Linked DNA regions of Homo sapiens: region 2 is linked to region 1. The links come from fine-mapping of genetic effects on gene expression. A gene starts in region 1. The other region holds a variant in brackets. All regions are shown on one strand. Distances are between the middles of the regions. Region 1 holds the start of SYNM (synemin). Region 2 overlaps SYNM (synemin).

Region 1 (8,326 bases):
CACACTAAATGCTCAACGGCTGTTAGCTGAACGAATGAACCAGTTGTACACACCCTGGGAGCTACTTCCAGTACCTCGTTTCACAAATGGGGAAACTGAATTGCAGACAGGTTAAGGAACGTAACCTGCCCAAAGAGCGGCAGAGTCAGAATTCAGGGCCAGGTAGGACAGCTGCAGAGCACTGACCCTTAGCTAATCCCATCCTAATCCCACCCCACCTTCCCATCTACAAAAAGCTTTCATTCAATCATGTTTTGGGGGCTTGGAAGCCTTTTCCAGTCAGCCTCAGCAGCTAAGGGCTCACTTTCATAAGCAAAAATCTCCGTGTTTGCAGGGTGAAGCTGGTCTCCACTTTATCGCAAATGTCTTCAAGTGTTTTCTGAAGCCCCCTCCTGCAGCCTGGGTGTGTCACTCAGGCTTCAAGTGATCTAGATCACATTTGGGAACTTGGATGTCAGTTCAGCAAACTCTTCTCGGGCAAATCTGAGGCCAGGCCTGGGGCAGGCCAATGACTACCGCCTCATACAGTGAAGGCGCATGGGCCATCTGGGAAGGACCAGTTTCCCCTCAAGTAGAATCCTAGCAAGCATCTTCCCCCTTGAGCCACAGAAGCTATAGCCAGAGGCAGGGAGAGCTGGGCACAATGTGGCAGCACCCTCTGCTGCCTCCAGCTCCTGCCTCCAGGGGAGGGGGGCATTAAAGCACATGGAACACAGAAAAAAAGAAATGAAAGAAAATAGTTTTAATGCCAAAACTATTCAGCCAGCTGGAGGGGTCTAAAAGCATTTTAGGACTTGAAATCAGCAGAGTACCTCGGGCTAGCCCTTAGGAAGAGCAATTATCATTATGCTATGAATGCAAGAATACTGGTTAAAGGTTTCTCTCTGATCAAACAGACAGAAGAGAGAAACGGACGCCCAGCGGTCAGTTGCTCAGGCACTAGAGCCTGAGTTGAATCCTGGCTTAACTACTTACTAATCAGGTGACTTATGTGCCTCAGCTTCCTCCTCTGTAAAATGGAGCTTATATTAGTACCCACTTCGTAACACTGGTGTGGGCACTGAGAGTGAATATTTGTGAAGGGCATCTGTGGTACCTGGCACACACGAAGCACTTGCTAAAGGCTCTTAGTAATAAGATATTTATTACCATATACTAATTCAACCCATTTTTAGGATTTTTTCACTCTCCCCATAGTAAGCTTCTACAGAACCCGAAAAAAATTACAGGCTTGGGGTTAAATCATCCATACTCCCTCTTTCACATACTTCCTAGCATCTCTGTGATTGGTGCTGAATCTTCTGGAATGCAATTTGAAATGGAGTTGACTTAAGTTAACTGAGGGAAGATTCAGTATATGGACAAGGTAGTGACTGGTAACACTTAGTGCAGTAAAACCTCTGCAAATTGGAACTGGAAAAAAAAAATGGCCGGGCACATGGCTCACACCTGTAATTTCAGCACTGTGGGAGGCCACGGCCGGTGGATCACTTGAGGTCAGGAGTTTGAGACCAGGCTGGCCAACATGGTGAAACCCTGTATCTACTAAAAATACAAAAATTAGCCAGGCGGGGTGGTGGGATCCTGTACTCCCAGCTACTCGGGAGGCTGAGGCACGAGAATCACTTGAGCCCAGGAAGCGGATGTTGCGGTGTGCCGAGATCAGCCACTGCACTCCAGCCTGGGCGACAGAGCAAGACTCCGTCTCAAAAAACCAAAACCAAAACCAAAACCAAAACCAAAAAAAAAACAAAACAAAAAACAAAAAAAAAAACCAGGTCCTTATTGACATTTTCCTCGCTCTTTGCTTTTAGGAAAAAGCAGCAAATTCCAACAAGAGAGAAGTATCACTGGATGGCAAACGGAGAGTGGGGTCCCAGCCTCACTCTGAGGGCAGGTATGACCTCAGGAAAAGCACTTCCCCGGTGGGCCCTGGAGTCCCTGTGTCAAAGGAGGGCTGCACAGGATTCTAACTGCACTTCAAGTCCCCATGTCTCCTCCAGTCAGGGGAACTCTGCTTTCATATGGCTCACATTACGAGTTCCACTGAAGGTTTCATTAGTGGGGAAAAGGGCTTTGCCGCTAAGAAAGAACACTGGAACCAGAATTTGAAGGTCTGAAATGTGCCAAGTGAGCTGTGGCTGTGAACGCATGGTGACGATTTGGTCCACACAGCGTGGCTCAAAGCAGCATTTTCTAAACCTGCCTGCACAGCACAGACCCCTGAGTTGGTAGCGAGGGTTCCCTACAAAGGGGTTCCCTGGGCAGTAGGTTTGACAGATACTCCTTTTTGGAGAGTCAAAATAACCACTGGTCAAATCTCCATGAATGCCACATTAAGGCACTTTTTAACTTTCACTCAACAACGAGTATAGGACCTGTGGAACTCAGACCCCTGGCCACTGTCATTGCAAAGGGACACAAGTGCTCACAAGTGGAAATCGGTACACACTGGGTCAGTCCCTGTCCCTGCTCTAGCTATGGCAAAGCCCCAAGAGAACACTTTGAAAAGTTATGAGGCGGAAGCCAAACAAAACCCACAACTCAAAAGATTAAATCCCAATGTAGTACCATATTGCATTCTATGATTTCCCATCTAGCCTGTAGCTCTTTGCATACTGAAAGTCTAGGGCAGTGCTGGGGACCCAGGGAGAATCAACAGGTATTTACTCATCACCTGTGGATACCTGTCACATCACCGCAGTCATTCCATATGACAACCCCCATGTTCCTCTCACTTCTAATTTTTAAAAGTCAGTCTCAAATCTTTAACTCACAGCTGCAAACTGTACTCTTAAAATATTTGTGAAATTGTGCAGATGTTATTTCCATCTGTCCTTTTGAGAACTACTGATAGTGTGATTTGGGAATATTTCCAATTCTGGCTGAGGCAGGGCAGGGCGAGGGCCAAACGCTAGGGCTGGACTGGGCATAGTTTACATCAGCCACAGGTGTCACCCCGCCGGTGTCAGAGGGTTTGCTTCCCTGAAATAGTAACTGTTTATATCACTCTGCACTTGTAATAACATCCTGCCAAAGGGCCCCACTTTCCCACAACTTTTACACTACGCAGAGATCTGACGTCAGCGTGTGCTGTGAGCAAAACATCTTCGATCAAGCTCTGTTCTGCATGAGGGTTGCTGCCCCTCCCAAGATCAAACAAGGCAGCCGCCCAGAGAGCCACAACTGCGGCTTCCAACTGGGAAATCATATTGGCAAAATAAAAACCGTTTTGGAAATTAATTTGAGTTTTCCCCTGAGGAGCGCTATAGACAGCGGGGCTACCATAAGCCGTCACTTCTGCAAGTGAGAGAGGTTTCTCGGTTGACTCTTAGATCTGGGTCTACTGAGTCTACGGAGCACGGAAAATGGAAGGAAAACCTAGAGCTAACAGGGTGGCCTATCAGGATGCGCCCAGTCACGCTTGTCAAGAGTTAAAGCAGCTGCCACCTAACCCCATGACGAGGACGGGGCTATCCGCTAGGACCTGCCGCCCCGCGCTCGCCCGCTGAGTCGATGGACCAGCGGACCGAGTCCGGGTCCCCATGCCATTCGGGCACCCTCTGGGCGGGCCCTACCGGTCCGCGACGCCGCGCCCCTGGTGAAGGGGCCGCTGCCCCACGCCGTCAAGGGCAGGGTGCTGGGGCGACGGCAGCGGGTATGGGGTCAGCGCGCCATCCCCGCGCACGGACCTGCCGCTCCTCGGCCTGTATCCCGTACTCCTCGCGCATCCGCAGCAGCGCGTCCTCCAGCCGCGCGCGCAGCTGCTCCAACCCGAGCGCCTCGCGCCGCAGCGCCTCTGCCTCCTGCGCGCACAGCCGCGTCTCTTCCTCCGCCTGGAGTCTGCTCTCCTGGCCGCGCCGCAGCGCCTCCTCCAGCTCGCGCACCTCGTCCTCGTACAGCTGCACCGTCTCCCGCCACGACTCGGCCACCAGCAGTGCGTAGCTGTCGTGCACCTCCCGCAGGCGTGGCGGCGGCGCGGCGGGGCCGGTGGCGCGGGCGCGGAAATGCATGGTAAGGCTGGCGGCGCGCGCGCGCAGCTCCCTCACGTCGCGTTCGTGGGCCGCGTCGAGGCCTCGGCGCTCGGCCTGCAGCCGGCCCAGCAGCGCCTCGAGGGCGGCGCGCGCGCCCAGCGCCTCCTGCAGCTCGCGCTGCTGCGCACCCAGCTCGGCGTCCAGGCGGCCGCGGGCGGCGCGCTCCTCCGCATCCAGGCGCTGCAGCTCCCGCAGCTCGCGCCGCAGAGCGTCCCGCTCGCCCTCCGCCAGCGCAGTGGCCCAGCTCAGCTCGTCCAGCTGCTGCCGCAAGCTGCGCGCCTCCTCGGCGCAGCGGGCCTGCCCCTCGGCCCACAGGCCCTCTCGCCCGCGCCGGCCGCGCAGCTCCTCCTCCAGGAGTAGGTTTTCGCGCTCCAGCTCCCGCACCCGACACACGTAGTCATAGAGCCGGGCGTTGAGCTCCTGGAGCTCGGCCTTCTCGGGGCCCGTCTGCAGCCGCCAGGACAGCATCTTGCCGGGCGTGCGGGGTTCTCGCGGCTGGCCGGCTCCCTCCTGCCCTGGTCTTGTCCCGGTCTCGTCCTCTCCGCCGCGACGCTCCGGCCTCGCCGCTGCCCCGGAGGCCCGCAGACTGGGACGCGAGCGGGAGAGCCCAGGCACTTAGCGGACGGGGCGGGCAGACTGGGCGGGCGGCCTGGGCGAGGGCCGCGGCCTCCAGCCAATCAGAGCGCGGCCCGGCGCGGCCTCTGCGGCCGCACAGCGCCCCCTGCCGCACCTTGGCGGCCGCAGGTGGTCGGTGCGGGCAGTCGGGTAACAGCGGGCGGGGTGGCGGGCTAGCCAGGCCGGGCTCAGCGAAGGGACGCCGGAGAGGGCGTCCGGGAGCATACGAGTGTCCTGGCCTTGGTGGATGGAAATAGAAGCCTATTGAGTTGCTGTGGTGCTGGCGATTTTGGAGCGACTTCTTACCCGAGGCCCTGGAGATTGGTGGCTTTTCTATTTTTAAAAAAACGATATGGGCCGGGCGCGGTGGCTCAGGCCTATAATCCCAGCATTTTGGGAAGCCGAGGTGGGAGGCTCGCTTGAGCCCAGGAGTTCGAGACCAGCCTGAGCAACATAGAGAGACCCTGTCTCTACCAAAAAAAAAAAAAAAAAAAAAATATATATATATATATATATATATGGAGCCTGGCGTGGTGGTGTCACACGCGCTGCTTGGGAGGCTGAGGCGGGAGGATTACTCGAACCCAGGAGTTCAGGGCTGCAGTGAACCTGATTGTGGCACTGCGCTCCAGCCTGGGCAACAGAGAGAGGCCTCATCTCATATATATACATTACACATACATGTGCATTAATTTTTTTTTTTTTTTTTTTGAGACAGAGTGTCGCTCTTGTTGCCCAGGCTGGAGTGCAATGGCACGATCTCGGCTCACCACAGCCTCCGCCTCCCGGGTTCAAGCGATTCTCCTGCCTCAGCCTCCCGAGTAACCGGGATTACAGGCCAGCGCCACCACGCCTGGCTAATTTTTTTTTTTTTTTTTTTTTTTTTTTTTTGTATTTTTGGTAGAGACGGGGTTTCTCCATGTTGGTCAGGCTGGTCTCGAACTCACGACCTCAGGTGATCCGCCCACCTCGGCCTCCCAAAGTCCTGGGATTACTGGCGTGAGCTACCGTGCCCAGCCTAAATAATCTTTTTAACTTAAAACATAAATATATATCCATTTACCAGTATTTTAATGTGCAAAATACTTCTCTTGATGTCAGTTGACAGGAGTCCCAGTTGCCCTTCTTATACAAGCTACCCTCATAGTACATTACATTTTCCAAAACGAATTTCTTTCATTTGGAGTGAAAACTTAGAGACCATAAAGTGCTCCAAGTACAGAACTTTCTAGACATCTAACATCTCCCCGAACTTTTACAAATCTCACACACACACCCCTAATGTGACAGCTGTTTCTTTCCAGCATTTCCCTAAGAAAGTATTCAGTTTAATTGCCATGGAAACCACAGCTCTTTTTTGTACACTTGCATTTCATTAGTTTTCATGGCAGTTATTTATGAATGACAGTTCTCAGTATAAGTGTCATTAAGGCTCACAGGGACAAACCAGCTGACCCTTGGTTGGGGTGCCCTTGAACTTGTGGCAACACAAGTGCCCAGGGCGAGACCTGGACGGTCATCCACTGGCCAGAGGGCTCCTCATGGCAGGGCCAGCAGTTAGTGTATTTTACAGATGGCATGGAAAGGTGGACTACTCAGCAAGCTGGTCCAGGGCCTCTGACAAAGCTTCTAGTGCTCTCCTTGTCACAGCCATGAGCCTCCAATCACAAGCAAGGCAGAAAGTGGCCCTTCCTTTTTCTAGAGACCCTATGTTGGAGATCCCATTCTGTAGGTGGTAGAAATTAATATCTTTCAATGAATAATTCCCTGTCCTTTTCTGCTAAAACTAAGTGGGGGTGGAAAGTGGGTTTATTCAGTGCTTGGGTTCATTCACCTTGGTGTGGGACAGGGGGATTTGGACCCCCATCACCCCATCATTGTCCATCCTCCCATTCCCCCAGGTGCACACTGACACCTGGCCTTTGCTTGTCAAACACCAGAGCTGCTGTGGTGTCATCGCCCAAACCTATGTGGAGACCCTGCCGGTCCTGGGCCCCTCTGGGACATTGGGGTGCGGGGGGGCGGCTCTCACAGTTGCCTGGACTCCGCTGCAGCTGTTTGTTCTCAGCTCTTTGACTCCCCACGCTAACGGGTTCTGCTGTCCCACATCCCCTGGCTGGGCAGGGGGCAGCCCTGCAGGGTGGGAGAGCCTTCTCAGGGACCAGTGAGTCCCAGCAGGACACTTTGCAGTGACTCATTAGTCTTTCTTTGCCCAGTGCCCTTCAGGGTCTTGGACTTTGAAACTCAAAACCCTTTCCCCCATTTCTGCTGTAAATCCTGTCCCTGAGGAATTGACTGCTCCAGCATGCAGCTGCCCCGGTAGGGAAAGAGTTATAGGGGATCAGGAACTAGCAGGGCCGGGAGGTGGGAGGGGGGAAGTACCCCCAGCTACTCTTTCAGGATAATATCCTGCTGCTTCATACTGAATCCTCACAACACTGAAGCTCGGAGGGGTGAAGTGACTAGAAGTATTAGAGTTGTGACCACAAGAGCAGACTTGAGCAGGCAGGGTCTGGCCAGGAAGCAGAGGCAAACTCAGAGGGAAGGGAATGATTGATGGGATGGGGATGGATGGGATGAGGAAGCACCAGGGACCAGCAAGAGCAAGAAGCTAAGAAGCCGTTAGCGCCTTAGGGTGTTGGCTGAGCCTGGAGAAGCCCAGAGCGCTGGAAAAGAGGAGCAGAATGGATCCCAGGAGGGAGCAAGAGGAGGAAAACCCAGTTCTTCCTTCATCCAAGCCTCCCTTCTCTTGCCAATACTTCCCGCTGTGGAAGCCAGAAGTCACAGGAGCCTGGCAGTGGTGCACTGCGGTTGGCTCCCACAGGTTTGTGAGTGCCAACTGTTAAATTTTTAGAATTTTATGAACCACTTGTTAAACACAGCCATTATTAAAAATTAATTATAGAAGCTTACAACTAATTATACAAAAAGAGCAAACACATATTCAAAACGTATCACTTCCTCAGTATTTCACTGCATTTTCCTATGATCTGCTCTTGAAGTTATGAATGAGCAGTGTGCCTGCACCATAGAAATGCCATTTAATGTGTACTACCCTACTCCATATTCACTGACATCATGTTGGTAGCTTGAGTATTTACAACACAGAAATCAGCCAATGACTTGTTTTTGTGGATTTGATGTTTTGTTGATTGTCTAGCCTTTAAAAGCAGTGGAGAGTATGTTAATAGTGCAGATTAAATTTAGTGGTATGTTGTGTGTCTAGCTATTGAATTGTGAACAGCACAAAAACGTGAGGAAATGTTTGTCCGGTGTCTCGAAACTTGTATCCAGATCAGGAAAGAAGTTGCTTCATAGCTGGGCGTGGTGGCTTACACTCGTAATACCAAGACTTTGGGAGGCCAAGGCATGCAGAGCACTTGAGCTCAGGAGTTCGAGACCAGCCTGGACATGGCAAAACCCCCTCTCTACAAAAAATACAAAAATTAACTGGGCATGGTGGCATGCACCTGTAATCCCAGCTACTTGGGAGGCTGAAGTGAGAGGATTCCTTGAGCCCAGGAGATCGAGGTTTTGGTGAGCCATGATTGAGCCGTTGCACTCCAGCCTGGGTAGCAGAGTGAGATCCTGTCTTAACAAAATTTAAAAATACAAAAAAAATTTAAAAAGAAGTTACATCATGATGAAGAATAAATGAAATTTCTCAGTTATTTCAC
Region 2 (8,326 bases), 21 kb before region 1:
CTCCCTCCCTTTCAGGCCGAGGTTGATGATGTCTCCTATCATCTGCTCGGCTGACTTGCCTTTCAGCCCCACTTCCTTAATATCCTTGCTTAAAAGGTAGTCCAGGCCAGCTTCATCGGAAACATCAACATCCTCAGTCAGTTTAGACTCCACAACTATTTCAGTCTTTGTTTTCCTTTCCCCAGGAAGCTCTTTCCTGTCCACGTAAGTGACTTTTGTGTCTGGAAAAGAATCAGCAGATGCTTCTGTCTCTGGAGACTGAGTGAACTGCTTCAGGATACTGGTAACGATGTTTTCTGCTACGGTTTCTGTCATGGAATCGCCTTGCAGAGAACCAGTGGCATCACTGGTGCCCAACCTGAACCGTAGCTCTCTTGCTTCTGCCTCTCTACCGGTCCCACCACCAGCATCCTTCACAGGCGTCTGCAAACCTTTCGGGGACACCTCTGCTCTTCTGTCCTGGGATACTTCTAGACTAATCGGCACCTCTCTCTCTCGCACGCTCTTCTCCTTCGGTGAGTCCTTCTCCTTAGCCTTCTCCTTCATCTGCTGGCTTTCTCTCTGTCTCGCTTCCTTATCTAACTTTGTCAATTCTTCCCATCTTAGGTTTCTCTCCTCGGAAGCCTTCTCTTTAGAATCGAACATTTTCTCTTCTGGCTTTGTTCGGATGGTTTCTGGTCTGTTTCTTTCTTGCTCCCTCGTGGCTTTCACTTCTGTTTTCTTTCCCAGAATGACGGTCCTCTCATTTGACCGTGTGCTTTCCGAAGCACCTGCTGCCACCTTGTCTCGGCGATCCCGGTACGACTCGCGGGCAATTGTGGAATCTTCACCTATGTAAACGGGGACCTCCCTTGTATCTCCGGCTTTTGGTCTGTCAGGGAATGTTTTCACTTGAGCCTCAGTATTTCTTAAAAGGCCATAGGTTGGAGAGAAAGTTCTGACGTTGGTTTGACTGCTGACGGCTTTTCCGTATGAGTTTTCCTGCTGGGTAGTGGCCGAGGAAGAATATCCCGAGCCCAAGAAGCCTCTTCTGGCATCACCTCCAATAGATGTGCCCGTCTGAGATCCACGGTGCCCTGACAGGTTAGAATACAGTGCCGAGCTGTGATTGAAACTTGCCAAAGGTGCTTTCTGCCTTGAAAATAGATTCCTTTCATTTTCCCTCTGTAGTAGTGAGTCGGTATAGTGATAGGATTTGTTTCTGAATTCTGTAGAAATTGAACAAAGCATTCATTAAAATGACAGTCATCATTACCCTTTTCCATCTACAAGCATTGTTGCAGGCCAAATCCCATTCCATCATAATAAATATACACTGTTACCACAGAAAGCTCATTATAAAGATAAGTTATATTTGGTGCCCAAATTATTTTTTGGCAGTTTACAAAATCCTGTTACAATAAAATGTAGCACTACAAATACTTCAGCCTAACACGTTTCTCCAGTTACTGATATTAAAATACTCACTCATCTTAACATTAATCATAAAGCACAATGCATATCCCAGAGAGGTCAGAGGTGCTCGTTTTTGTGGCTGAAATTTCACAATCTTATATTTTGAAATCATTAATTTCTGCTTTTTGAGGTAAGTTTAATTTACTGTAGCAGAGAAGAGCTCTGTAATTACAAAGTGTGTCATTATTAAACACCAAATAGCATTATCCTCCACTATTTAATATACTCTTCTGTTTCACTGATTTCCATATTGGGCCAACAAGTATTAAAGAATTTAACTTCTTTAAGCTTTCTGATCTTTTATTTTACATTTAACACTTATCTGAAAAGGAGCCAGTGCAGAAACACCCCGGTCTGTCTTAGTGTCATGATCCTGAAGTTGGGAGGCAGTCCTCAGGGCTTCCAGCTTTGCTCCAGGCTGTTTGCAGACAGTGCTACCCTTTGGGGTGTCCACACCCCAGCAGGGGAAACCGCTCTTTAGGAATGGCAGCTGGTGGTTAGAACGCAGCCAGGAGCACCGTCCACCCCGAGAGTGCCCCTGGTGTCTACCCACACCCCAGCTGGCTCAGCGGGGACAGGGCTTTCTCTCTCCCTTATGGAGCCAAGGCCAGAGGCCTCCTTTGCACAGATCCCAAGATACAGGAAAGAGACCAGGCCAGGACATTTTCTACAAGACTCCTCTTTTCAGGTCAACTGATCCTACTGATCCAACTGAGAAGTCCCAGAAGATGAACCCCCAGGCAATAGTGCAGGGACCATCTCATTTACAGTTAAGATTCAACAAGAAACATGGAAGATTACAGACTGGGTTTAGGTCCACCGGCTAGCGGGCAAGCGGCCAACATTATTTTATGCAATATTATAAAAGAAACACAAGCACACTAACAAGTATTGATAAGTTCACTACTTAGGAACTTATCTGTATATTTACTCAACAGAACAGAACTATCTAGAAGCTCAACGTCTAATAAAAATTCCCAACTAGTAATTTTTATTCTAAAGCTTTTGGCATAATATGTAATTGCCAGAATAAATTTAGTTTACAAATATTAAGTCTCTATTTCCTTCAAGAAGCTTGAAAAATAATGAATGAATGAATGAATGAATGAATGAATGAAGCAAGTTAACAGCAACAGCTGTTAGCCCCTCTGTGTGCTCTCCCTCGGCCCCAAAATCACAACTGGGAAAATTTGAGCAAGGCCCTGGCTTAGACTGTTGGTCTTCCTCGGAGCTCCTGGGCCCTTTTCTTCCTTCTCCCCTCTCTCTAGGTTACATGATGGATGTCCAAACTTAGGTATCCACAGGTTAAAAATGTAGGTAACTAAGTAAACCTTGAAATCTGGGGAGTTAATTCTTGTTTTATAGATGTCACACGTTAACTGATGCCAGGCAGGTTGACCAATGCCTACCCTTCCATGAACACCTTTGCTTTTTTCAAACTTACTCTCAAAATTAGAAAGAAAATTTGCTGCATGTTGTCTAAGACCAGATCCCTTCCAGTTATAGATGACTAGAACCCAAATATTCTTCTCAACCCAGTGACATGTCAAATCCATGAGTTGCCTAAAAGAAACAATGAAGACTAAAACCATGCTGCTGCCTAAGGTGTGAACTCAACATTCTATACGTAATTTAATCGACACTTGCTTAGCCAGAGCTCTTCAAGATTCTATAGGGCTTTAAAAGGTTAAAAAACAAGTTATCCCTCAGTTTCTTAGGATCTTTCTAATGAACATTAATGATCTTATGTCAGTTCTGCAGCCATAGGAAGGATGGGCCCTGTCCTGAGGCTCTTGGCCT[C/G]AATAAGGTAGTCTTCAAGGCACCAGGACACATTTTCCTGAGCTGCTCACAACAACCTAGGGTGGTGTAAACAATGTAACTATTCCCATCTCTCTTCCTGTTAGGGTAGCAGGTTCCAGAGTGCTGCCTGCCTGCCATCCAAGGCCATACCTCCCTCTACAGGTGTAACAACCATAACCCCTTGGTCTGGAAATGGAAGGAGTGTCCCTTCCAGGGGTGTGAAACACAAGTTCAGGTGCACTCCTGCTCGCCCTCACACTGCCCAGTGCCATTAGCCCCTTCCGCTCCTGCATCCTGTCGAGAGAGGGACCAAGTTTATCAAGCACCTTCCCAAACATTCTCATTCACATAATTGAAATTATGTCACACTAAACTAAAATCTATTTGGTACTTAAATGAGAGATGAACTCCTGTTATCTAAACACCATATCTAACCCGTTCTTCCCGATGATGGTGCTTTACTATCTAGCCACAGAATAAACAGTTCAGATGCCTAAAGCTAAGTCAAGTCATTAGCTTTTACTTACCTGACGGCATGTTTTCAACGTGCTCAGCCCAGATCACTATCTCTGGATTACTTTCTCCTTCCAATAAGGCCCTGTAAAAATAATTTACAAACATAATTCATTAGGAAACGAAAGAGTAAGAAGTGCCTCTAATAAAACGTATCGTGGTATGCGGCCAATGACCATAGTGTCACCTGTTTTAGGACTTCTACCTGAAGAGGAGACTTGGGCAGGGCTGCACCATAGGGCTGGCAAGCCCACCCACCAGCCTCAGCAGACCTGGGCCAGGCCACCTGCTCTGCTCACCGCCACATCCCTGGCAGCCAGCATGGCGCTCAACCCCTACTAGCCCAGTGAACAAAATGACCAGGCCAGGGCTTCGGCAGTACTGGCGAGCCAAGCCCTTCTAGAAAGCTTTCTCAGTCCAGGGTGAAGAGGAGCAGGAGCAAGGGGGCACTGGAGAGATGTGGGCCCCAGGCTAGAGGGCCCCAGAGCAGCTACACCCCCCACTGGGTTCTTCCTGGAGTCACAGCTGGTGGGGGCAGCTTGCAGAGGGCTGACCAGGAGACGGCAGGGACTGACACTTATAAGGCAGCCAGACTGCATCTGTGGTTTCAAACTGCATTCCAGGGGGTCACCTTGGAGACGACAAAAAGAAGTAGAAGGCAGGCAGACGGAAAAGGTAGTGCTAAAGCGCCCCCCGTCAGTAGCCCCTCCCCATGCCACCCCCAGGGGCCTCACTTCATCCAAATTGGCATCCTGTTATCTCCTTTAATAAAATGGTGAGAAGTACCCAACAAGGTGATTTCTTTGACTATGTCTGCGCCAAAGTTCTAAAATTATAGAAGTTTCATTAGGTTGTTCACGTCTACTGCTTCAGATCCCAGAGCTGAGGAGAGTGGTCCCAGCAGACCCAGCCTGCTGGCGAGGGGCTTAGCACCGGGATGCCTGTCAGCCAGTCACTCGCGAAGACCCCTTGGGCTGCTGGCAGCTCTGGGTGCAACAGTTTCTCAGTTGCTAGAGCAACATGTGAAGTCACTAACTCCGGTTCCAAGAAATACACTGCACACGGCAAAAGGCATCCAGAACAAGAGCCCACTGAGAAATGCCAATCTTATGGCTGAGAGCTGGGCACAAAAACGGAGCAGGGTGCCCACACCCGAGCAGGGACTTGGCAGCTTGGACAAACTGCACTGAGTTGTATTTCCATCTGTTGAAACATGGTGAGCCCCATGAACACGAGAGCCCTGTGAGCAGCTGGAAGAAAGCAAAGGAGGCATGAGGCACTCTCGCGAAGGCGCACACAGCGGGCCTGCCCCGGCGCAGTGACTGCGGGATGCTTGTGTGTGGACGGGGCATGTGCAGAGGCCCGAGTCCAGAGCCCCAGCCCTTCGCTCAGGGCAGAGGCCAGGAAACAGGACACCAACCCATTAATCCCACGCCCTCATGACCAAGCATTGTAGGTTCCAGGAACGCAAACAGCTTTCACTGCTGAGAAAGTTCTGAGGTCTATATAATCAGAGGAACATTCGGGGTAAAAGCCAGGCCCCAAGGCTCTGCACCCCAGGATGACGGCAGCAGAAGGGGTGGCGTCCTGCAGCTGAGGAGCCAGGGCAGGGCGTGGGGAGAAAGACTAGGTTCTAGTTCAGATCCTCCCGGCCTGGCTCAGCTGTGAACCTCGGGTACCACGGGGCCTCTCCCTTGAGCTGCCCAAGTTAGAACGGAAGGTATGTTGCTGTCCAGGGAAAAATACGTCTTCCCCACCCTCCAAAGGGAATGCATCTGCTCCTCTTCCAGAATTCCAAAGCATCACCAAACCTTCATAGAGTTCAGGACCCACACGAAACAGGCACCAGCCCTGCGTGGGGCTTCTGGCTGGGTTCAGGGGACAAGATACAGCCCCACAGCTTCCCCTTTCTAGGCCTTTACCATCCCTGGCTGACACTGAGCACCAGGCATTGTGGTCACTCATGTACTTACACCGTCGAAGCCACCCCCAACACAGGGCCTGTGGCTGCATCCTCGCTCTAGAGGTGAGAAGACTGGGGTGCAGAGACAGCGTCTTGGTCAAGGGCATACGGCTCACCAGTAAAGAGAAAAATGCAAACCCAGGCAGCCTGAGCTCTCAGCCCCCTCCCCTGCGATACCACTAGGCCTCCCAGTGAGGCCAGAGACCATGGTATTGCACACAAATTTCAGAAAGCACAAATCCTACAGATAGACCCTCCGGGCCATATTAATGAAAATAAATTCTCTTGGTGATTTCATCCAAAATGGCCCTGCAGAGCTCTCCTATAAGTAAGAAGCTCCTGCTGGAGAAGGAGCTATCCCTCATCTGTGTCCCTTCTCAATGGCCGGATCCTAGCAGGCAGCGACACATGTCACCTTTACTATCTGTGAGCACCCGGCTGGGCACTGGCCATTGAGTTCATGCTTTGGGTAGCACATCCAGCCCAATGGCAGCCACCCTCCTTCCGCACAGCCCCAGGACTACACGGCGAAAGCATCAACAAGACTCTGAGGAGAAGCCAGAAACCACGACTTCCTCTAAAGCTCTGCAAGGGACATTTTTAAGGAATAGGTTCGTACCACTTTAAGAAATGGGTAGCATGTTCTCTGAGGCTGCAATCAAACCTGGTTATTTTGAGAGCGGTGGAGGAAATCTGCCCCCAAGCCTCGGGGACTGTGAGAAATGCCAATCCCCTGAGTCATGGGCTATTGTGGGCATTTCACACAGCTCCACAGGTTGGTGGCCCCTTATGCAGGAAAATAAGCAAAAGTGCAAGAAAACTCAAGTCCCTGGCCTCATTAAGGAGCCCAGGACAAACCCACAGTGCAGAAGCCGGCTGTCATGTGGCCTCTGGCCAGGCGCCAGGCCCTAATGGGCCACCCGGCGTCCTGAGCAGGCTCCAAGGCAAGGCTCTCTGTCTGGGATAGATTATCCTAATGGAATTGCTGAACAATCCGCCGTGACTCAGCACCGTGGGCACAAGGCCACTGCTCTGTGCAGCCCCATAAATGAGGCACTGTCAGGATGTTCCCAGAAGCCGTGTCTGTGCGGGAGCCTGCTGGGGCCGGGGCCGGGGCCTGTGGGTGATTCACGGGGTGCTTCCTAGCAAACAGCAGGTGGAGAAGTGCAGAGAAGAAAGGGAGGCTCCGGAGCTGGAGAAGGAGCCGCAGAGCCGCCTCCCTCGACTCCTCACTGCGACAGAGGAAGCCAAGCTCCACACAGAGTGGACGCACTGCCTGGGTCACCCCAGATGCGGGCCCGTGGCTGGTCAGTCACCGGGAAGACCAGGGAACAGAAGGGAGGGGGCAGAGGGGAGTTCCATTCCCATGACCAGCAACGCCACCTGAACGGGAAAGGTGAGACCACCGGCTTCACAGGAAGGATAACAGGAGGTAACGTGGCAGTGCTGGGCCATTTCCGGGCATCGCTTCTGGGGTCAGTATTCAACCACATCCCAGAGCCATCTCTAGGTCAATACTAGAGACTGAAAAAAAAAAAAACCAGATAATCAACAGAGACAAACATCACTCATAAAACAGAGAGGAAGCAAGCGCAGGACAAAGTTCTGGAGTCAGGATGTCTGGATTCAGATCTGAGACCTGCCACTTCCTAGTTCTGTGACCCTGGCAGGCCGCTCAAACCCACTGTGACTCAGTTTCCCTATTTCTGAAATGGAGAGAACTCACAGGTTTGCAGTAGGAATTAATCAAGAAGCAGAAAGTTCTCAGAACCATGGCTGTCACAGAGTAAGAGCTCACTAAACATCAGCGATCACGTCGTCCCCACCTCCTTCTACATCCTCCAAAGAAAACTGATTTCCAGCTAACTAAAATGAGTCAACAAGGGAAGGGACTGTGGACCATCTGTATTTTATAGTTAACTGAATGTTAACTCATTTATTTGACCAGCAACCAAAGGTACTGGTCGATCCTTTCAATTATATATTCTATTTATTTATTTATGTAGAGACAGGATCTTGCTCTGTCGCCCAGGCTGGAGTGCAGTGGTGCCATCTCAGCTCACGGCAATCTCTGCCTCCTGGGCTTAGGTGATCCTCCCACCTCAGCCTCCCAAGTAGCTGGGACTACAGGCACGTGCCACCACACCCAAATAGTTGTTTTTGTATCGTTTGTAGAGATGGGGTTTCACCATGTTGCCCAGGCTGGTCTCCAACTCCTGGGCTCAAACGATCCACCTGCCTCAGCCTCCCAAAGTGCTAGGATTACAGGCGTGAGCCACCATGCCCAACTCTATTCTTACAACTACAAGATTTTTATTCACTTCAAGTATTTTATCTAGTAACTAGATAAGTCTCAGTGTTCACACATTTTTATAAGTCTTCCAAAAAAAGGTGGGAACTAACTTAAAAAAACAAAATGTACTTCTGCAAAACCTTGAGGAAACCCCTAAGAAACGTTTTCCTTTGAATAGACACGTGAAAAGGTACAGGTGGCCTAAAAAATAATGGAGCAATCAGAAATATCACTAGAATGATGAGATGTAAACATTAGGAGTCCTCTGTGTTGCTACATTAGCAGTCTACATGGAGACCAGA

Evidence for each region.
Region 2: its variant is fine-mapped to the expression of SYNM in whole blood (INTERVAL, PIP 0.98).

The regions. Positions count from the first base shown.
Region 1 is chr15:99,101,376-99,109,701 of GRCh38, reverse strand. SYNM (synemin) reads right to left here and starts at 4,622. Exons shown (of 4, transcript NM_145728.3): 1 at 3,693-4,622. The coding sequence starts at 4,502. SYNM-AS1 (SYNM antisense RNA 1) reads left to right here and starts at 3,825. Exons shown (of 3, transcript NR_187219.1): 1 at 3,825-4,014. RefSeq lists silencers at 3,513-3,682, 3,963-4,872.
Region 2 is chr15:99,122,249-99,130,574 of GRCh38, reverse strand. It overlaps SYNM (synemin), which reads right to left. Exons shown (of 4, transcript NM_145728.3): 3 at 3,783-3,853; 4 at 1-1,208. Among named protein-coding and RNA genes, the nearest start is that of TTC23-AS1, 13 kb to the left of the region's middle. The variant C/G (reference allele first, on the strand shown) is at 3,256.